2 linked regions of the Homo sapiens genome follow. Each later gene encodes a partner of the first gene's protein in a complex. Each region holds a gene or a part of one and is shown in the gene's direction. Other genes may lie near its edges.

Region 1 (6,126 bases):
TTCAGGGCACATGGTTGCTATGGTTATGGCGTCATGTATTTATAATGGAGAGATACTTTGTCTTCATTAATCTACAAACTTGCCAGTGGGATTCGGTATTTTTTTTCTGTGTGTGTGTGTGTGTTTGTGTGTGTGTGTACATACGTACGTACGTACATGTATACAGCTTCTGCATGAAAACACTGAGGCTGAACAAGGTGTTCTGTTTTGGTGGTAGTGCAGAGAAACATACTCACACATAAATTATTTATATGTGAACCAATTCAGTGAGAAGTAAGTACAGCTGCTTAATTGACCTAAGGGTCTTATTTCCAACTGCTTAAAAATAAGTGTAAAGTGAAGTTCATGGAAGAAATAACTTAAGGCTCTTTAATATACTTTTGTTGGTGAAGAGAATTTCAAGCTGTTTCAGTCAGTTAGCATATATTCTTAAAAAGACTGATATCCTATTCGTAGTCTTCTCTTATATATCCTTGAATTATCTTCCATGATTTTTATATTTTATATACTTATAATAGCGTATTATAACAACTTAATGCTACATAATTTACAGTAATCGTTTCCAAATTAAGGAAGCCCTATGTGTAAAATCACAAATTTATGTAACATAACACAGGAACTTTTATTCATATAAGAAAATCATTATTCACTTTACTGTTTTCCTTTATTTCAGCATCATTTATTACAAAATTAATACTGTTTTCGAAAAACCAAAACAATATATTATAAAGCACAACGTGGAGTCTTCTCTCACCTCCTTGTCATTCCCAGCCTCAAAGGGTAACCACTGTTTACAGTTCAAGTGTGTCTTCACAGCAGATGTTTTTCTATGCTCGTGCAGACATATAGATGTATTCCTGGAAAGAGTGATGCTTGCATTCTTGAGGAGTTAGGAGCATTGCTATTTGAAAAAATAAAAATCCAGTTTGATGATGTTAGTCATTATGCTGAAAGGAGTGATTTTAACAAATACCAACAGAACTTCTTGTGGTAGGCCAGCTTTCCAAGTTACTGGTTCAAGAGAACAGTCATTTTATAACAGGTATAAAATCAAAGACGTTTAGTAAAATATTTTGCCCTTAATTCTCCATGGATAGCTTGTTTATGAAGAGTTCAGTATTCAGGGAAGATGGAAAAACAGCCCAGTGTCAGCTAAAGTAATAAAACCGACTTAATCCCAAATTGACAATTTAAAGCCCTTTAAAATTACTTGTTGCAAACAAGAAATAATCCACCCAGTCTGTCATCTCTTTTCAGCTTATTAGTAGTGGAATCTCTTAGGTGGCTCTTTAAACCGTGTGTATTAAAAGTCCTAAAGTTGTTCGTGGAGATTTCCAGTTGCTAGGGAATACCAACACTTATTTGGTGTTTGATATTGTAAATCATGATAGTTATTGGGGCCAAAGGGAGGTCTGTAAATGTCCAGTAGGTTCTCTTTGGAGCTAATTTGTGCTGTTTGCATTTTCTTTCTGCCCCAATACACTTGTCACTGGAAGAAATCACACAGGGGGTAGGGATAAAGCATGAGGTATCATGATTCCTTCATGTAAAAATTTTGCTCAAATTAAAATGTGAACATAGTATAATATGTAAAAAAAACTGGACCTCCTTAAATCCTTTATAAAGCAAGGCAATGTGTAAACACATGAATAAATATGAAGGTTTTATTTTAAGTAATAGCTGTGAATGTTAAAAGTAATATTATTTTCCTTAGAATAGTTTAATCACATATCCCTTTTAAATTTTTTAAGCCTTTAAACGTTTTATTTTCAGTCTGGGCTTGGGGACTCACACCTGTAATCCTAGCAGTTTGGGAGGCTGAGGCTAGGGGATCACTTGAGCCCAGGAGTTTGAGACCAGCCTGGGCAACATAAGAAGACCTCATTTCTGAAAAAAAAAAAAAAAAAAAAAAAGAAAGGGAAGAAAGGGGAAGGAAGGGAAGGAAAGGGAAGAAAAAAACGAAAAGAAAAGGAACAAAGGAAGGCGTCGGTGATGTGCACAAGTGGTCACAGCTACTTGGTAGTCTGAGGTGGGATTGCTTGAGTCTGGAAGATCGAGGTTGCAGTGAGCCGTGTTTGCACCACTGCACTTCAGCCTGGGCGAGAGAGTGAGACCCTATTTCAAAATAAATTCAAATTTGAATATTTTACTTGAGTAACATTTTTTTTCTCCTGAAAATAATTTTCTACAGTGTTCTACTGTGGTTGAGGTTTTCATGTTTAAATCAGATCTCTAGCCTCATGGGACTCATAGTCTCTCATGGAAGACAGATAATTGGGCAACTACAATGGATTATGCCGAGTTCGGTGCTTTGGGAGCTCAGAGCACAAGCCCCTTCCTCATCTGCCCTGTAGGGCTGGGGAGGTGCTGTCAAGGAAGGCTTCCCAGCGGGAGTGATTCCTCAGGTAATAACCTGAGATTTGTACACACATCAGTCAGGCAAAGAGCTGTGGACTTGGGGTGTGAGTGGCCAGAGACCCAGCATTATCTGCAAAAGCTAGACTATGAGAGAGATGAGAACACAGTTAAGTAACTGATAGAAGTTCAGTCTGGCTGGGGCATGGAGGAATTACAAACATTTATTATGAAAGTAATACATGTGCATTGTATAAAATGTGAGAAAAACAGAAAATGAGAAGGTATATATTATTGCCAGTTTCATGCTGCAGAGTTAACTACTGTGAACATTTGTTGCATTTTTATAATTCTTTCCATTTATATTCGTAGAACAGCGTATTTGATATTATCCCAGTTTGGCTTAGACAATAGATATATATACAGGTATAAAATGCATATGCATACATGAAAACACATAATAAAACTGGGATCATGCGAACATGCTGTTACCTGCTTTTTTCATATTACAGTATACTTAAATATTTTTAATGTCCTTAGATGCAATTGTATTTTTAGTAAGTGAAATATTTTAAGTTGCACTATTTCATTTCTGTGAGTAAAAAAAATTCTTGAAGTTAAGCATCCTGACTCTGTCTGCAGGAGGAATGTTTCTTGAACCTAGAGGCTCCTATATCAAGAGTATGTGGTTATGACACACCATTTCCTCACATTTTTGAACCATTCTACATCCCAGACAAATGGAAGTGTTATGATGCCCTTCGAAAAATGATCAACTATTGACCATATAGGTAGGTATGCATCTTGAGAAAGCTACTATGTGCCCCTGACATTAACGTACTGTTAACCAAGACACAGCAATCATCAGTGTTTTGATGGTAACAAACTTTGATGGTAAAGTTGGTAAAAGGCAACTTTCAGAAGAAAATAATGTGCTTTAGAAAAAAAATTCAAATTTATAGTAGTATATTTACATTTTTGTTGTTGTTGTTGTTCTGAGATGGAGTCTCACTCTGTCGCCCAGGCTAGACTGCAGTGGTGCAATCTCAGCTCACTGCAACCTCCCCCCTACCCCTGAGTTCAAGCGATTCTCCTGCCTCAGCCTGCTGAGTAGTTGGGATTACAGGCGCCCACCACCATGCCCAGCTAATTTTTGTGTTTTTATTGGAGGTGGGGTGTCACTATGTTGGCTCAGCTGATTTCAAATTCCTGACCTCAAGTGATCCACCTGCCTTAGCCTCCCAAAGTGCTGGGATTACAGGCATGAGCCACTGCACCTGGCTATATTTACATTTAATAGAAACATATCTAGCATATGTATATGTGATTTTTTTTTTTTTTTTGAGACCGAGTCTCACTCTGTCACCAGGCTGGAGTGCAGTGGTGCGATCTTGGCTCATGGCAACCTCTGCCTCCCAGGTTCAAGCGATTGTCCTGCCTCAGTCTCCTGAGTAGCTGGGACTACAGGTGTGCACCAACATGCCCAGCTAATTTTTTATATTTTTAGTAGAGACGGGGTTTCACCATGTTGGCCAGGATGGTCTCGATCTCTTGACCTTGTGTTCCACCCGCCTTGGCCTCCCAAAGTGCTGGAATTACAGGCATGAGCCACCGCGCCTGGCCTGTATATGTGATTTCTAAAAAATAGATGCATGCATATGTTAACATTGAATAGTCAATCACTAGATGAAGATGCTCTCTACCATGGTTTAGATTGCAAGTGTACTTTATACCATTGTTTCAACTTCAACCTTTATTTTTGTATATATTTTTTCAGCTACTTAAACTGTTCATGAATAGGCGTACTTTCTGTATTTAAAAATGGCCCCTCAAGCACCGTTAATTTACATTCCAGTTATTTACATGATAATTCATGACATTCTGAAACTTGCCTGTATATTATCTGAAAAATGGATTTCTTGAGCAAAAGATCTGTTTATTGTATGTAAGGAAAAATTTTACCTGAAAACAAACAAACAAACCCTAAAACTCAGCACCACTACCATTTCCAGAAGCTTTTTTAACAAGTGAATATTTTTTACATAATGGATAATAAATGGTATTTATTCATCATGATTTTCTAAGTAATGCTTATCAGCCCCTTCAGTGGTGTTATTCTAACAAAATGAATACATTACAAATTATTAAGTTAGCTTTTCAGAGTTTTAATATAGAAGTTACTAGCACTGACACACTGATTTTGAAATGTTTCAAAATGAGTAGATATGATTAGATCCTTTACCTTTTAATATCTAGTTTTTCCAAAAATGATAGTAATATCTTTTGAAGAACTATGCTTTTTCAAAAGCAAAATCAACTCTGTATAATAGCACATTCTCTACTTTTTAAAGATCAGAAATGCTAGAATTCTTGACTTTTGTGTATGGGTAGTAAATCTAGCTCACTGAAAATCAGAGTGAAACGCCTTTACATTTGTGCGGATAGAGAAGTTAACTCTCCCTCATATGTCACTGTGCTACCATAATCCCTACATTTTCTGTCTGTTCTAGTCTAAGAATATTGTTATAGATGGAAGTTAGGACCATTAGCCCACAGATGCATGTATTCTCTCAGACATACCGGTGTAGATGCTATATTTCTGATGTCTTCTTAATGTCTGTGAAAGCAACTGGCATCTACAATAAATCACACTTAGAGCTGGTTAGAGGACTCCTTCACTTTTGTTGTCCATGTGGTTCCCTTCCGTGGACCAGCCGTAATAAAGAGCCAAGGTAGTGATGGTGGCCACGTGCCTCGTTGCTATTTTTAAAGTAATATTCAGATGTGGTTTTAAATTTAGATTATGTATTCCTTTTGAAACATAAGAAAAACATTTAAACCTATGCTGAAAATACGATAAAAGAAAAACAACTCCAATATGCTAAAAGTTAAATATGGTATTTAAGAAAATAGTCATGTATGCAATTGAGAAAGTCTATAATTTATTTTACAGAAAAGCTGGAAGATTATGACTAGATATGGAAATATTTTTTCTGAATTTTTTTTTATATTTCCTCCGACTTACCTCTTTTTGAAAAGAGAGTTTTTATTAAGTGAACCATCACGATATTGGCTGAAAAGTTCTACATTCTATTATTGTATTGTAACACACATGTATTGATGATTTTCATTAAGAGTTTCAGATTAACTTTGAAAAATATTCCACATGGTAATCTTATAAATTCTGTTTAATTACATCTGTAAATATTATGTGTGTGATAGTATTCAATAAAGTAAAATCAAATTGTCTTTGGGTTGTATGTGTTCTTTTTTTTTCCTTTAGTAAAAAGTTTTTGTTTCAGAGTAATAGCTTGTGAATTGGTTAATTAAATCTGAATTAAAGTACAGTATTCACTATAGAAATGGTGACTTCTCAACTTTATTGTATTTGGTTCAGTTCTTTATGACCAGGATGGTTATATGTTGACAGAACTTCTAGAATGTTTCCCCTCATTCTTCCCTCTTGCCTGAACAAGGTGTCGTAATGAATGTACTCACCTCCCCAGTGTGTGGTGGGTGGTGAGGCAGAATTTTTCCTACTGCCTCTCTTCCGTGAGATGGACAGCCTAAGCCTGTCCATTACAAAACTGCCAAGTTTTAGCTGTAGCTGTAGTGTTTGTCGTGATGTTGCAAAGCAATTTTTGCCCATGTTCTTTATATTATTACTTGGATAAAAAGAAAAAACAACAGTAGCAACAACAGATGACTCTGACAGGAGGAAACCTCCTTATTGGGGACATTGTCCAGTCCTCTTGTTTCTTACTCTGCCTC
Region 2 (7,026 bases), on another chromosome or scaffold:
GCCCTGCATGGGGACTACCCTCAGAGTGTCAGCGAGCACTGATAGGGCCAGGAAGGCATATCTTAACCCTTTGTCTTAGATGCTTGGGGCAAGTTGCTTAACTGCCCTGTGCCTCTGTTTCCTCATTCGTAAGGGGGATGGTAGCCCTTCCCAAGACAGCTGTTGAGGGCAGTCTTGGGGCAGTTGGCAAAGTGCCCTCAGCACAGAGTAAGCGCTCAGGGCCAGGGGTTGGTGTCATGATCGGGGACTCGCCCTGGGACAGCCCTTCAGCAGGGCCAGACCACGTGGCTGTCCAGAGCCCCCATGGACCAGCATGGCTTGCAGCCTGCTCCTGGACTGTCTACTGCTCACAGCTGGACCAGGCCCTTGGCCCCACATGCTCTAGGAGGGCAAACGCCCTGTGGTGTTTGTCTAAGGTCTAGTGTCATCCGTGCGGAAAAAGATTTCCAGACACCAGGCAGCAAGCTGGGCCCCCGCCAGCTGTGCTGAGCACTGCACCTGTTTTTGCTGAAGGGTTCTCTTGTGAGGGCACCAGGCAGGACCGAGCAAGCCTCATGGGAATCATGGGAGCCGCTGAGCTCTCCACATGGGAGAGCTGGCCGCCTCTGCAAGAATGACTGTCCAGCACTGAGGGTCAGCAGAAGTGTCTGGGCAGCTGCAAATGGGACTCATGCAGAGGCAGCATGGTGCAGGGTAAGGAGTTGAGTCACATCCACTCTAGACTTCACTTGGCAGGCCACTCACCTTGGTGACGCTGTCTGTCGTCTGTGAAGTGAGAAGAGTGGTGTTCATCATGATAGGTAGTGCCTCCCTGGGCTCTTGACACCAGAGTGCTGTTCTTTTTTTCTTCTCCTTTTTTTTTTTTGAGATGGAATCTCGCTCTGTTGCCCAGGCTGGAGTGCAGTGGCGCGATCTCGGCTCACTGCAAGCTCCACCTCCTGGGTTCACGCCATTCTCCTGCTTCAGCCTCCCGAGTAGCTGGGACTACAGGCGCCCACCACCATGCCTGGCTAATTTTTTGTATTTTTAGTAGAGGCGGGTTTCACCATGTTAGCCAGGATGGTCTTGATCTCCTGACCTTGCGATCCGCCCTCCTCCACCTCCTAAAGTGCTGGGATTACAGGCGTGAGCCACCATGCCTGGCCTTTTTTTTTTTTTTTGAGGTGGAGTCTCACTCTGTCGCCCAGGCTGGAGTACGGTGGCGCAGTCTTGGCTCATTGCAACTTCTGCCTTCCAGGTTCAGGTGATTCTCCTGCCTCAGACTCCGGAGTAGCTGGAATTAAAGGCATGCACCACCATGCCTGGCTAATTTTTGTATTTTTAGTAGAGATGGGGTTTCACCACGTTGGTCAGGCTGGTTTCAAACTCCTGACCTCAAGTGATTCGTTTGCCTTGGCCTCCCAAAGTGCTGGGGATTACAGGCATGAGCCACCGCGCCGGGCCAGCCAAGGTGCTGTTATATGTGCTCTTTAGCCTCGGAGACTGTCATTTCCCCTCACTGCACTGCAGAGCGAGGGCACACCGGGTGAGGTTAGGGCAGGCCCCAGTGGTGTTGCCTCATTGAGGCACCTCCCCCATCCATGTGAGGCAGGAGAGGCAAGCATTACCATCAACTCTAAAAGCCAGGTAAGAACCTGAGTCAACAAAGGTGAGGTCATGGGCCCAGGCCACATTCTCCTAAGGAGTGGAGCCGAGTCTTTTTATGGCAGTCTGACCCAGAGACAGCTCTCGCTGTTTCCCACCCTTGGCTGTCTTCCCAGGGCTATATGTGGAGTATCAGTGGTGGCACTGGCAGGGAGTGGCGCCCGGTGAAAAGGAGTGTTAAGAGGAAGCACGTGCCAGGTGTGGTGGCTCACGCCTGTAATCCCAGCACTTCGGGAGGCTGAGGCGGGAGGATTGCTTGAGCCCAGGAGTTTGATACCAGCCTGGGCAACATGGCGAGACCCCCATCTCTAAAAAATTAAAAAATTAGCCAGGCGTGGTGGTGCACACCTGTAGTCCCAGCTACTCAGGAAGCTGAGTGGGAGGATTGCTTGAGCCCAGAGGTTCAAGACTGCAGTGAGCTATGATTCCACCACCGAACTCCAGTTTGGGTGACAGAGTAAGATCCTGTCTCTGAGACCAACAAGAAAAGAGGTAGCATGTGTCAAGCAAGAGCAGCAGTTCCCACTGGACCTGGAGTTTCCTGGTGCAAATCAGCCTGTGAGTCTGTATTTTCTTTTTTCTTCAAGACGGGGTCTTACTCTGTCACCCAGGTTGAAGTGCAGTGGCATGATCTCGGCTCACTGCAACCTCTGCCTCTTAGGATCAAGTGATCCTCCCACCTCAGCCCCCTGAATAGCTGGGACCACAGGTGCACGCCACCACACCTGGCTAATTTTTTTTTTGATTTTTGGTAGAGACGGGGTTTCGCTGTGTTGCCCAGGCTGGTCTCAAACTCCTGAGCTCAAGCAGTCCACCTGCCTCACCCTTCCAAAGTGCTGGGATTACAGGCACGAGCCACTGAGCCTGACAAGTTTGTACTTTTAGCACGTTCCCCTGCCCCTGCCCAGTCCTTCTCACATGGGTGGACCTAGTACCACATTCTGAGAAAGCCTGATTCCAAGGTCCTGTATCAGTCCCTTGGACCTTCTTTGACCCTCTACAAGACCTTTCTTTCCCTCCTTAACCAGAGCAACTCCTGTTTCTATCTGTTACATATGCAGCACAGCCACATCTTGTGTGGATTTGTATTATGTCCATTCAAAAGCATGTGTCAGAAAATACCAGTAAACCTGTATTAAAGTTGGATGTTGAAGTAGTGCTAACCACCCTCAACTCTAACTAAAATATCAACAAGTGGGCTGGGCGTGGTGGCTCACACCTGTAATTGCAGCACTTTGGGAGGCTGAGGTGGGTGGATCACCTGAGGTCGGGAGTTTGAGACCAGCCTGACCAACATGGAGAAACCCCGTCTCTCCTGAAAATGCAAAAATTAGCTGGATGTGGTGGCACATGCCTGTAATCCCAGCTACTCAGGAGGCTGAGGCAGGAGAATCGCTTGAACCCAGGAGGCAGAGGTTGCAGTGAGCCAAGATTGCGCCATTGCATTCTGGGCAACAAGAGCAAAACTCCGTCTCAAAAAAAAAAAAAGAAAGAAAATTAGGTAGATCTAGTGGTGCACACCTGGAATCCCAGCTATCTGGGAGGCTGAGGCATAAGAATTGCTTGAACCTGGAAGGTGGAGGTTGCAGTGAGCTCAGATTGCGCCACTGCACTCCAGCCTGGGTGGCCAAGCCAGACTCTGTCTCAAAAAAAAAAAAAAAAAAAAAAAAAGGTAACTGCTGTGTGTAATGTGATCTCCATTAAATTTGTATCTAAAGAGCGGGTTCTGCGGTAAAGAAAGGATTTGGAAAGCACTGTACTAGAGAGCTCCCTCTGAATAATGTTCCCGGTCTGAGTGCTTGCAGCATTGATCCACAGCGCTGCCCCTAAAGTGTTGGTGTGAAGGTTGTCCCACTCTTCAGGCGGGGCAAAGAGCTTGTCTGAGGGCAATCACAAACCCCCTTCTGTCTTCTAACTTCGGAGGAAGGGCCCCCTTAACCTGGAGCGGTTCCCTTTGATGGGGAGGTGGGTGTTCACCAGAGGTTTTGTTTGAAGAAAAGGTTTTACTGCCATACATGGGTTAGAGTACTTCTGTAGTCCAGAAGTTGTAAATTAGTGGTCTATGCTGTTATTTGGTTCATAATGATGATTTTTTTTTTTTTTCGAGACAGGGTCTTGCTTTGTAGCCCAGATTGGAGTGCAGTGGCACGATCTCAGCTGCCTGCAGCCTTGAACTTCTGGGCTGAAGCAATCCTCTGCCTCAGCCTCCCAAGTAGCTGGAACCACAGGCACACATCACCATGCCTGGCTAATGTTTTGATTTTTTTTTTTTTTTGTAGAAGCGAGGCCTCACCATGTTGCTCAGGCTGGTCTCCAACTCCTGGGCTCAAGCGATCCTCCAACGTCAGCCTCTCAAAGTGCTGGGATTACAGGCATGAACCACCATGCCTGGCCATAGTAATGATTTATGGTTAGAATATTTCTTAAAGGTAATTGAATTAGTTGAAAGCACTTAAATACCAGACAATATCTCACTAAGAGAAAGAAAGAAAAAGGCTAGATTTCTGCTTTCTTTTGAAAAATCAGATTGGCCTTGCTGGGCAGAGTCAGTCAGTCTGAACATCAGTCTTCCTCTTAAAACAAGCCTGAGCTTTCCTGTCTGCCTGCCAGCATGCTGCAGGTCACCCACAGGGCTGAACTGTCCCCCTGTACTGCCCACTCGGCTAACCATTGCCTCCTCCCCTCCTAGGTGTGCTGATGTATCGGGACTACCCCCTGGAACTATTCATGGCCCAGTGCTATGGCAACATCAGTGACTTGGGCAAGGGGCGCCAGATGCCTGTCCACTACGGCTGCAAGGAACGCCACTTCGTCACTATCTCCTCTCCACTGGCCACGCAGATCCCTCAGGGTGAGGATGCATGCCCTGTACCTTGCACATGTGCAGACCAATGTCACACCCCTGTCCAGGCCTCAGCTCTTTTGCCTGCCTTCTGGGTGGAATTCTGGGTTGGTGACACCACTAGAGCCCTGGTCTGTGCTCCAGACTTCTTCTTCTTATTTTTTTCTTTTTTGAGACGGAGTCTTGCACTGTTGCCCAGGCTAGAGTGCAGTGGTGCTATCGCAGCTCACTGCAGCCTCCTTCTCCCAGCTTCAAGCAATTCTCCTGCCTCAGCCTCCCGATTAGCTGAGACTACAGGTGTGCACCACCACGCCCAGCTAATTTTTGTATTTTTAATAGAGACAGGGTTTCACCGTGTTGGCCAGGCTGGTCTCAAACTCCCGGCCTCAGGTGATCCACCCGCCTCAGCCTCTCAAAGTGCTGGGATTACAGGCGTTTAAGCCATTGTGCCCAGCCCACTTTTTTTTTTTTTTTTTTTTTTTTTTTTTTTTTGGTCTGAGACGGGGTTTCACTCTCGTCAGCCAGGTTGGAGTGCAATGGTGCAATCTCGGCTCACTGTAACCTCCACCTCCCAGGCTCAAGTGATTCTCCTGCCTTAGCCTCCTGAGTAGCTGGGATTATGGGCATATGCCATTGTGCTTGGCTAAATTTTTGTATTTTTTGTAGAGATAAGGTTTCACCATTTTGGCCAGGCTGGTCTTGAACCTGAGTTCAAGTGATCTGCCCACCTTGGCCTCTCAAAGTGCTGGGATTACAGATGTGAGCCACTGCACCTGGCCTGTGTTCCAGACTTTGAATGCACCTCTTGTCTGGGACCCTTCAGAAGAGGGCTCTGTTGCTGTCCCCACCCCATTCAGGGGCCTGAAGCCTGTGTGACCACACTCTGGATTTCCCAACCACATGCCTACTGCATTTGTCTGCTCACAAACATAGCCAACGTGTGCACCAGGTTCCACTGTGCCAATGCTTCACGTTCATCATCTAATAAGGACCCTCATTGTGGCCATGGGGACAGAGGTTATTATTTGCTCTTGTTCCTGTTTTCAAGAGCAGGATGCCCGTGTTTTGTGTGTGTGTGAGAGACAGCAAGTGAATGGGAAAAAAAAAAGTGCAGGAGCCTGGCCAACATGGCAAAGCCCTGTCCCTACTAAACATACAAAAATTAGCTTGGCATGGTGGTGCACACCTGTAATCCTAGCTACTCAGGAGGCTGAAGCAGGAGGATTGCTTGAACCTGGGAGGCAGAGTTTGCAGTGAGCTGAGATCGTGCCATTGCACTCTAGCCAAAGTGAGATCCTGTCTCAAAAAAAAAAAAAAGGAAATTGAAGTCAAAGAGGGAAGTCACTCGCTAACGGTCATGTGGCACAGAGGGAGAGGAGCAGGGACTCAAGTCATTGACTGTGTACCTCCAGAGCCTGGGTTCTTGGCCCTGACCTTTGTCTGCCTCAGTCCTCAGAGTCAAGTAAGCTTCCCCAAAGCTTACCGTAGGTGCCCTGAAGTCCCTTCCCTTATAAGAGCTTTTTTGGGAAGCAAACCCACTGGGTGCCAGGCCTGCACCCTCATAGTGTGGAGAACAAGGAATCGGAGCCCCTTCCTGTCCTCCGGGGCCTGTAGCCTGATCTAGGGTTGGTCTGGGCCCTGGCTTCTTTGCCCTAGGGCAGCTGAGATGCATGAGTTTGTGTCTCTCCAGGCCTCAGCACTGTGCCCAGCACAGCAGGAGGCTCCACACCCCTTAGCTCATAGTGTTCTTTTGTTGAGGAACAAGAAGCAGTTTGAGCCTCTTAGGTGGGAGGTGGGCAGGGAAGCTTTCTCAGAGGAGGGGGCATTTAGGGGGCATTTGAGCTAAAGGTAATAGGGTTTCCACAAGGCTGGGGCGTGGCCCTAACCTTCCCTCTGGGTCCCTGCTAAGTCACTTCAAATACACGAAGTTCCTGCCATGTGCCGGTGCCACTCCAAGTGCAGGGAACAAAAGCAACGCAAACCTCAGCCCTCCTGGTGCTGCCATTGTGGTGGGGGAGACGGACAGTAACAGAGATGGAGAGGGAACTCCTGGAGTATATGAGGGTGGGGGTCCTGTAGGGAGCAGCCAAGCCAGCCGGGTGTGGTGCACTGTAGGGGTGGCTGGGGTCCGTCACTGGAGTGACACTGAAGTATGGACCAGAGGATGTGAGGGGGGAGCTGTGTGGTGTCTTGAGGCAGGTGTGAGCCTGGCGTGTTTGAGGAGCTGGGAGGAGCCCAGAGGGGCAGGTGTGGAGTGAGCAGGTGTGGAGTGAGCGGGTGTAGGGTGAGCAGGTGTGGGGTGGTTGGAGGTAAAGTCCAGGAGGTGGTGGGTGGGGGTGCAGATGGTGCAGGTTGGGTGGGGCCTCAAGGCCTTTGCCTGTTGCAGGGATGTCGACTTTTACTCAAAGTGGGACAGGAGCCGTGGGTGGGGAGGAGTCTGCTCTTCCTTGGCCTGGCTCACCTCTTCATGGAATCCGCGGGCTGCCCTGTGGATAAGGGATTGGGCAGTGTGTGAAGGGCTAGTAAGGAGGCTGCTCAGT

What was found. Proteins that work in one complex are often made in the same cells at the same time.
Region 2: the proteins of BCKDHB (region 1) and BCKDHA are in contact, whole or in part, in a crystal structure (PDB 1V16), measured with the Homo sapiens proteins. Residues at the interface, in NP_000047.1 of Homo sapiens: Pro89, Thr90, Val92, Asp117, Arg118, Phe120, Asn121, Thr122, Pro123, Cys125, Gln127, Gly128, Ile129, Gly131, Phe132, Ile134, Gly135, Ile136, Val138, Thr139, Asp158, Gln159, Asn162, Glu163, Ala165, Tyr167, Arg168, Tyr169, Arg170, Ser171; in NP_000700.1 of Homo sapiens: Phe155, Leu185 (codon at 4,402), Gly186 (codon at 4,405), Lys187 (codon at 4,408), Arg189 (codon at 4,414), Gln190 (codon at 4,417), Gly196 (codon at 4,435), Cys197 (codon at 4,438), Lys198 (codon at 4,441), Phe202 (codon at 4,453), Val203 (codon at 4,456), Thr204 (codon at 4,459), Ser206 (codon at 4,465), Pro208 (codon at 4,471), Thr211 (codon at 4,480), Pro214 (codon at 4,489), Gln215 (codon at 4,492), Val217, Gly218, Ala219, Tyr221, Ala222, Arg225, Gly244, Asp245, Ala248, Asn251, Phe252, Thr255, Leu256.

The regions. Positions count from the first base shown.
Region 1 is NC_000006.12:80,340,667-80,346,792, forward strand, and holds the end of BCKDHB (2-oxoisovalerate dehydrogenase subunit beta, mitochondrial isoform 1 precursor), read left to right. Parts: exon of another isoform or gene 1-1,974; intron 1,975-2,997; coding exon 2,998-3,138; 3' UTR 3,139-5,604; downstream 5,605-6,126. UniProt on the Homo sapiens protein: Together with BCKDHA forms the heterotetrameric E1 subunit of the mitochondrial branched-chain alpha-ketoacid dehydrogenase (BCKD) complex.
Region 2 is NC_000019.10:41,414,802-41,421,827, forward strand, and holds part of BCKDHA (2-oxoisovalerate dehydrogenase subunit alpha, mitochondrial isoform 1 precursor), read left to right. Parts: intron 1-4,333; coding exon 4,334-4,495; intron 4,496-7,026. UniProt on the Homo sapiens protein: Together with BCKDHB forms the heterotetrameric E1 subunit of the mitochondrial branched-chain alpha-ketoacid dehydrogenase (BCKD) complex.